2 separate regions of the Homo sapiens genome follow, and region 2 is reported to be linked to region 1. The links are microRNA targets in miRTarBase. Many come from high-throughput screens and were not tested one by one. Region 1 holds a microRNA gene; the other region holds the end of a gene's coding sequence.

What was found. Region 1 holds the annotated microRNA hsa-miR-4462 (UGACACGGAGGGUGGCUUGGGAA, at 2,427-2,449, opposite strand). A microRNA usually pairs through its seed, bases 2 to 8, with sites in the 3' UTR of a target mRNA and lowers its output. Matches are read on the target gene's strand: a 7mer-m8 pairs with bases 2 to 8, a 7mer-A1 pairs with bases 2 to 7 and ends in A, and an 8mer does both.
Region 2: miRTarBase lists OCRL as a target of hsa-miR-4462. Seed matches in the 3' UTR shown: 7mer-A1 at 2,998-3,004.

What each region holds. Positions count from the first base shown.
Region 1 is chr6:37,552,940-37,557,328 of GRCh38, forward strand. MIR4462 (microRNA 4462) reads right to left here and starts at 2,483; the gene lies at 2,426-2,483. RefSeq lists a silencer at 794-1,088 and enhancers at 943-1,443, 3,070-3,159, 3,710-3,759, 3,870-3,969, 4,180-4,389.
Region 2 is chrX:129,589,493-129,593,881 of GRCh38, forward strand. OCRL (OCRL inositol polyphosphate-5-phosphatase) reads left to right here. Exons shown (of 24, transcript NM_000276.4): 23 at 353-464; 24 at 654-3,064. The coding sequence ends at 778. Among named protein-coding and RNA genes, the nearest start is that of OCRL, 51 kb to the left of the region's middle.

The DNA of each region.
Region 1 (4,389 bases):
TCCCAACTTCGGGTGATCCACCTGCCTCGGCCTCCCAAAGTGCTGGGATTACAGGCGTGAGCCACTGTGCCCGGCCTGAACTCCTTTCTTAATTCCTCCCTCTCCTTTAGCCTCCATAGCAAATCTGTTTCCTAGCCTTGCTTGTTTGATTTACTCAACAGTTTCAAATGCATCTGCTTTTCTCCCTGGACGCCAGGGCCTTAGTGTGGTCCCACTGTAACAGGAGAGCAGTGGCTAAGGGCACAAGGCTGTGGGGTAGGAGCTGGGGTCTGAATCTTGGCTTTACTGTTACTTGCACTGTGACCTTGGACTAGGGTTGCTAGATTCAGGAAGTCAAAAATATAAGATGCCCATTTGAATTTAATATGCAGTGTTTGGGATATATTTATGCTTTAAAAAATTCCTTGCTTATCTGAAATTCAAATGTAACTGCTCATTCTGTATTTTATCTGGCAACCCTACCTTGGACAAATTCTTTAACTTCTCAGTTCCCATGTCTATAAAATAGGGATAATAATAGCACCTACTTCAAAGGTGGTTCTGAGGGTTAAATGAGTTAAAAATATAAAATGCTTAGAACAGGATGATAATGACCATCTCACTTAATTAGTGTATTAAGAAGTGCTTCATACTTGAAAAATGCCTTGCAAATGCTATTGATGTGTTATTTTTGCTGTATCTTTCCTCTCCCCTGACTTCATCAGAGGCAGCAAACCAGCAAAGTGTGGGTGAGGGAGAAAGAGGTTAGACCTAAGGGGAATTTCCTGGCAGGAAGGATCAGTCACATCCCTCCTGCACAGGAGCCCCAAAACTTGAAGATGCTGCAGCTGGTGACATGTGGGCTGGGGAGATGGGTGGCAGGGCTGTAGCATGCAGACAGTGACAAGCTCTCTAGGACAATGAGAATGAATGAACTGTGACTACCCGAGCCACAGAGATGAGTCACACAAACACCTCCAGGCTGGCTGAAAGAAGCCAGATACGAAAGAATGCGTACATGGGACTCTATTTTTTTTTTTTTTTTTCGCTCTGTCTCCCAGGCTGGAGTTCAATGGTGCAATCTCGGCTCACTGCAACCTCCGCCTCCTGGGTTCAAGCGATTCTCCTGCCTCAGCCTCACGAGTAGCTGGGACTACAGGTGCGTGCCACCACACCTGGCTAATTTTTGTATTTTTAGTAGAGACGGGGTTTCACTGTGTTGGTGAGGCTGGTCTCAAACTCCTGACCTCGTGATCCACCCACCTTGGCCCCCTAAAGTGTTGGGATTACAGGCATGAGCCACCGCATCCTGCAGGACTCTATTTATATAAAGTTCAGAAACAGGGAAAACTGAAGCACGTTGTTGAGGGAACACACAGAGAAAGGTAGGAAGCGACTGCCTGGGACCTCTGGGGAAGAGAAGGTCAACGGGAAGGGATCCGCAAGCTGCTGGGTGCTGGTGAGGTTCTGGTCTGTGACTGAGGTGGTGGCTACTCTGCTTTGAAATAATGTGTTAATGAAACATTTGTTTCATGCCCTTTTCTGGACGTGAGATTTATTCCACAATGCTAAAAGGTTACAGGAGAGGGAAGAGGGTCACGCTTGGGAAGCACCTAAAGCTCACTTTCTTCCTGGAAGGCACCTGAAGTTCTACCTTCTTCTAGAGAAGGGCCTCCAGGGAAGAGGTGGAAGCCGACCTTTCCGTGCCCCCAAAGTTAGAAAATGAAGCTAGACAGCGGGGCAGCCTGCGTGATGCCGGCCTGAGTCAGACTCATTAAGATTCCTTCTCAATCTACCCTGGGGTCCACAGGGCAAAGAGAAACCTGTGAACCATGCAGGCAACTGGGTTGAGAGAGAAAGATTGGCAGGGAGGGGGGAGAGAGGTGGAGGTGGGGAGGAAGACAGGTGGGGTGGCGGGGAGATGGAATGGGGAAGAGAGAGGGGGAGAGAGGCTGAGGACCCCAGGCCAGTGCGCCAGGTCTGGATTCTTTAGCCAGTCCATTCTAATGACAGCTCTTCAGTGCGCCCCTCCCTGCTTCCCCCCAGGAGCAAGGATAATTACTGGAGATAATGATCACTTAGGGGGCAGGGGGCACTTTTCATTAACCCCAGACCTGGTATCCAACTGCCCTTCCCGAGGAGTCTGCCCCTCACCCCATCCTGCAGGGCCCACTCCTGCTAGCCCCCACCTTGGGCCGTGCCACTGGCAAGTCCCTGTGCCTGTCTTCACCTTAATTCCTGGGTGAGTGACATTTAAGGGCAAGCTCTTCATTGGGCCATAACAATTTACAAGCCAGGCAGTGGTGGGTTGTTCTGAGGCCCGCGGGGAGCGGTGGCCCTTTATCATCTGCCGGGGCGAGGGGGCCAAGTGATGCATGGCTCCTCATTAAAGCCCCACCAACAACACCGGGGAAGTAAAACATTTTAGCAACCCATTCACTTTTCATTTCCCAAGCCACCCTCCGTGTCAGGAAAGCCACTCCTGACTTAGGGCAGCTGGGAAGCACAGAGGCCTTTACGTGTCTTATTTATATCTTCCCGTCCCTCCCTCGGGGCACTGTCTAGGGCAGGAAGCCAGCAGGGCTTCACGCCGCCATCCCCTTCATGCTCCCTGAGCTGCTCCCCATCTCGCCCCTGAGAACAGGCAACCCAGAACCATCTCTTGCTGGGGTTTACAAAGTGCTTTCATTCACCCACCGCATCTTCACTGAGCTCCTCAATCGCTCAAGGTCTGTCAGTAGTAAGTGCAGAGGCTGGATTTGAACTTGGGTATCTGGGGCACATTTAAAGCCAGACCTTCCCACAAAGAGGTGAGACCAAGCAGGGGGAGCTCAGGGGAGGTGACCTAGGGTTGGCCCTGAAGCCAGCAGGGGTGTGGAACGGGGATGCCCAGTGGCCCTCCCTGGGAGACAAGTCATTTTTGCAGGAGAAGGTGGGGTGGGTGGGGAGACGGAGTCACCGTTCTTTCTCATCTCAAGCTTCACTACTGTGAGGCTCTGAGATTTTCTCTTTCCATTTGTGCCTCTCTCTGGCTTGTCCTCTCTCCCCTGTCTTTTCTTTCTCTCCCTCACCACGCCCCTACTTCCTCCTTTTTGTCTGTCTCCATCTCTCGGGCATTTTCTAGAGAAACAACCCGGTGAGCTGGGAAGAGAAAGTGACGTGGCCTTGGCCTGCGAGCACCCAGCTTCACAGCCAGCTGTGCCACCGCCGGCTGAGTCTGGACATCTCTGAGCTTCTTCCGTTTCTCACGTGTAAAATGGGTCTAGGCCTGGCGTGGTGGCTCACGCCTGTAATCTCAGCACTCTCAAATGAGTATGGGACCCTGGAAAGTCCTGGAAGTCTCCTTCTTCTCGAGAACTTTTAACATCAAGAAAAGCCCTGGCTGGGCGCGGTGGCTCACACCTGTAATCCCAGCACTTAGGGAGGCCGAGGCGGGTGGATCACGTGGTCAAGAGATCGAGACCATCCTGGCTAACATGGTGAAACCCCGTCTCTACTAACAATACAAAAATTAGCTGGGTGTGGTGGCGAGTGCCTGTAATCCCAGCTACTCGGGAGGCTGACGCAGGAGAATCGCTTGAACCCGGGAGGCGGAGGTTGCAGTAAACTGAGACTGTGCCACTGCACTCCAGCCTCGGTGACAAGAGCGAAACTCTATCCCCAAAAACATAAAACATAAAAAATAGCTGTCTTTCATTTTCAACAGTGGCTGCAAAGATGAGAAGCCCAGCCCAGAAGAGGTATACAGTGGATGCTGGTACCGGAGGCAGACCTGGCCCACAGTCCGTTACAAATCCAGGCTCCTCTTTCCTCGGTGTGGAGTGTCTGGCTGAGAAGTAGCTGCCCAGCCAGGAACCCCATTTTTCAGAACCCTTTGTGTATATGTGGGGCCGAATTTCTAGTTCTCCCCTATGGACTCTGTGCAAGGCGTGGTGTGCTGCTTTCAGATGGAAGGATGAAGAATTGGTCTTTCCCTGTCTGGCGGCTGCACAAGGAGAAGTCAGAGGTCTTCAAGGGGGCAGAGCCAGAGGAGGGAGGGAGCCAGGGGAGGCCACCCTGACAGCAGTGCTGGCGCTGGACTGTGACTGAGCAGGAAATGAACTTTCACAGGCTGAGCCACTGAGATGGGGCTAGCCTCTTACAGCAGTGGCTTTACCTCTTCTTTTTTCCATCCCTCCCTGGCAACTGTCTTGATCCCCGTCCGGCTGTCCAGGCCTCATGATCTGGAGGGAGGGCGTCCCGTTCCCTCTGACCTAGGCCCTTGCCCTGACTCCACGGTGGGCCAGATGCGACCATCTTGGCCATCAGGCTCAGGGCAGACTGGGGCCTTCTTTCCAGGTGCCAAGCGCAGTCCCCACCTCAGTGGATGCTGACAGGACGCTCTGGTGGCCCAGGAGGTCTTGCTTAGTC
Region 2 (4,389 bases), not on the chromosome of region 1:
AAAAAGAACAGAAAACCATTCAGCTTGGTAGGTGCCGTGGCTACATGCCTACGGAAATGGGAAAAGAACAGATGAACACTGACCTATTGTGAGGCAGGGTGTGCGTATGAATGTGTGATGACCACGTGGCCTGGTCATTGAGTGGACAGGGACCAAACAGCACGGCCACTCTTACTTTGAAGTTATAATTTGGAAGGTATTGTGTTGGCCATGAGGAGATAATAGAAGTTAGACAGATGAAATGGGTCCTGCAAGGGTTGGATTATAGACTACTATTACAGCAGCTGTAAGTTCCTCTTACTTTCATCTTCCACCTGTTTTTCTCACTGCCTGCCCCTATTTTTAAAAACAGGTGATCTCCCAGCTTCCGAGATGCCATAGAAATGTTTTCCGTTACTTGATGGCATTCCTTCGAGAACTCTTAAAATTCTCTGAATACAATAGCGTCAATGCCAACATGATCGGTAAGAGTGCTTCATGCAACACGGGGCGTTTGTTGAGAATACTCTTAGTGCATTGTATCCAGTATATACCTTACTGCATATGCAGGCACATGGCAGTCAATAGTCCTTGTCCCCAGGCCCTCCAGCCCTGAGGTTTTGCTTAGGTTATGTCTGACAGAAGTTTCCGCTTGTCTTTCTCTCGTCTTGTAGCTACTCTCTTCACTAGTCTTCTCCTGAGGCCTCCACCCAACCTTATGGCAAGACAGACTCCAAGTGACCGCCAGCGTGCTATTCAGTTCCTTCTGGGCTTTCTGCTTGGGAGCGAAGAAGACTAAGGCTTTTACTGTTCTCTGATATTCTAGAAGCAGACGATCTCGGGCTCCAAGTATTTCAGAATGATTTAAAAAGTCATGCCACAGGAAGGGTCTATTGCAGAATTTCAAGTTCTGTTTATAGTAAAAAGGAAGAGCGTTTCCTAATCCCTCCTTTACCATATCCTACACAGAAAAATACTTTTAGACTTATATTGCCAAGCCAAAGTTACCATATTTTGGTGTTTTTGTGTTTTCTCTTTATAAGGCAAAAAGATCTGTATTTACACTCCTTCACCTAGGGATGTGTTTGTTGCCCTCCTACCCAATTGTCATGATTGTCCTTAGTACCCTAGGCCTAGATTCTGAGATCTTCCCATTCTAGGCCTACAAGCACTACTTGCTGTAGCTGAGACTTGTCTAGAGTCCTTTGTTTTGCACTTTTGACCCACCCCTTCCTGGATCACTCCTTTGCACTCCACTCCCCTCGTTCTGTCACTTTGAACGAAGTCTGAGTGAGGCTAGTGACTCCTTGGGTGTCCTCAACAGTGAATTCACTGTCTGCGTGCAGTTATTACATGCATTTGTGCATTTCTACTACAATGGCATCTTTATGTCTCTGTAACATTGGCCTTTTCATGGCTCCACACTGGGTGGAACCATATTCTCTTAGATCACATTTAGTAGCATAACTGTAGGGACTATTAGAGATGGCATCTCATCGATGAGAGAGAATCACAATCAGAATGGAAGCACTTTGAGTATCTGAAGAGTGAGAGCATTCATGTTTGACAGGTCCTGCTTCCCACTATCCTTTTCCTGTTATTATTCAAATTTTACACAAGGACTAATCCTGGGTGTCTCTGAGACCCATCTCCTGCCTAGACATCCACCTCCAGAGCAACACTGGCCCCACAGTAAAAGAGGAAGTCTTGTACCTCAGGCAGGCCCATCTAGAGCTATTGCTCCTTCCCACAGCAAAGGTATTGTGGATGACCCTTAGAATCCATTCTCTGGTCTTCTGAAATACCAAGGGCAGATGTCACCTCCTTCCTCAGCAGGACTGACTCTGGGCTCTACAACCAGCTCCTTCACATAAAGGGTTTAGAGACTCCCCTTGGCTCCCAGTCACCATATCCAGTGTTGTGTAAAGAGACTGGCCAACAGGACCAACCAAGCACCTTACCTCTCCCATACAAGATGACCCTCTGAGCTTTTCATTTATTCAAGCTCTGTGGTACAGCCTTTTTTTAAAATAAATTAATCTATATTGGTTGACAAACAAGCCACCAACCACTGACTGCAAAACTGCCTGATGCAGTTGGGTTCCTCCTGGTTTTCTTTTGTTACAACCACCCTTGCCTGTTTACATTAATTGCAAGGAGCATAACGTACAGGCTGTATGTACAATCCTGGGCATTGACTCTGTGACATTTCTAGCATATCCAAGGCACCACCAGTGATTTCTCCTGTTTCTTGGTGGGGGTGGGGGGGAAGGTACGTATTCTGCAATATGGCTAAACCCTTTCCTGATTGAGAGTTAAAGCAATAGGAGTCAAGTTACTGGTGCCACAGATCTGGAGGTATGATAGGTCAGGGGCTAGGTGTTGAACTTAGTTAATGGAAGACTGAGAGCAGAACAGGTTTGTCATCTCCGCAAGGCCAGAAAGTGATCACAAAAAGAGGCAGATGATAGACACTGGGGTAGGGTCATACCACAGGGAAATACCTTTCCTGGGCTTGTTTTCTAGCATATCACTGACCTGGGATCTTTGGGTGATCAAGGGTGTGGTTAGTGGAGGCTCTGTGCTGCACGTATGCAGTATCCTATCTCTTTCTACATCAGATCAAAACACTAAGTTGGTGTACTGCCTCGACCTTTTTTCAGCTCATCCTGGAACATATACAGAGTTGAGAGTTTTAGACAATCTCTAGGTAGAGGAGACAAGATGTAGACCCAGACAGAAGAAATCTGCTTCCCTACCATGGCTATTCCAGCACCCCAACCTGTAATTGCCAAGTCCTCTAAGGTACTAATTTGTAGCTGCTCTGAAGTAAGGATTTCGGATTCAGCTGGTAGGGAAAGACTCTGCACCTGCTGTCTTAGGGAAGAAATGGTTCAAATCCATGTGGTGACATTGCATTAGTCTCCCTTTCACTGTTTTCTTATTCTGTAATTGTTTGTTATATTTCCCAAAAACGTCTTGATCACTAAGCAAAGCTGCTAGTGGGATTCTATATTTCGTGTCATCTTTTTTATTATAATTTATTGCAAATTTTTTTCTGAATAAATATATGTTGTGTGAAAAAGCAAAGTGTGATTTTGGTGAGGAAGCACTCAGAAGGGAGGGCTTATGTGTCACTGGGTTCCATTCGACTTGACTGCAGTCCCCATCAGCTGTGCCTGCACTGTCATCACCTGTCTTACAGGGAAATACCATTTATAAGAATTCTTAGTATATTCACCCTCAGAGATGAGAAGAAACCATGCGTTTTCAGAGGCTAATAAAGGTGTCCTGTACTTTCAGAGGCCAGCCAAGTACCCTTATTTTAACCCTAAGGATTCAGGCAACAAAACAACTCAATTAGAGGAAAGGATGTTGATTCTTAATGCATGTAAATGTCACACTAGGTCAGATCTGTGATCCCTCCGGCCCCAGAAACAAACCCTAAGATACACATCTGGGGAGAACCCAGCTACCCCTGCTCAGTAGTCTCAGTAGTTTAGACGCGCTTCCCCAAAGAGCTTGTTTTCACATAATCCTATTTTGCAGCTTTTGAAAACCAGTTTTGAACTTTTATGACTTCTTGGGGTGATCAAGTCCATAAATTTAGTACTTTTTTGTTGTTCTAATCTGAACTGCCTAACACGTTGGGAGGAAACCGCTGATTTGAGCATGGTGCCAATGCTTCCCTGCCAATCTCCATTATGAATTTGTGGATTCTGATTCCATTCCCTTTGAGACTGAAGAAGCCTCAGCTGGAGGTTTCTTCTCTACTAAGGCCCTCTTCCAATTCCCTCCAACTGTGAGCTTGACCCTGATGAATGTGCTGACTCAGTGTTGTCATAAACAACTTTCAAAGCCCCACCCAAAGCCTTGGCAGGAGAAGGTGTTTCTTTCTGAGAGTGATTTTCCCCCCAGCAGATGGAGACTGACACCAGAAGTTTTTACATAGTAGCAGGCAATGAGAATAGCAGGCAGGTGGTCAGTCTTTCCAGAGGTTAGAGAGGAAATGGCATCCCCAGCTGTGAGGCTTCTGTTATAGGAGACCCATTAGGACCTTTCTGATTGCAGGGCAAGTTGAAGAACTGGCTCTTGGTGTAGCCTCATAATGTAAAAGCCACACATTGCAACAGTGGCATCACTAAATGTTAGGGAGAGAACCTTAGTGGTGACCTAATCCAATCTCATTGTTTGGATAGGGAAAGTCTCAGAGGGGACAATGACTGACCTAAGGTTACTTAGGTTAGTGACACTGCATGGCATAGTGGCATTTGTTTTTTCAAGCAGTTCTACTCTGCTTGCCCATTAATTCCTTTGGTGGCATCTTATCAATTTCCGTGGCTGTAAATGTCTGTAATACCCCTGATTCCAAATGTTACGTCTCCACCTCATAGCTCTCTTCCGAGTTCC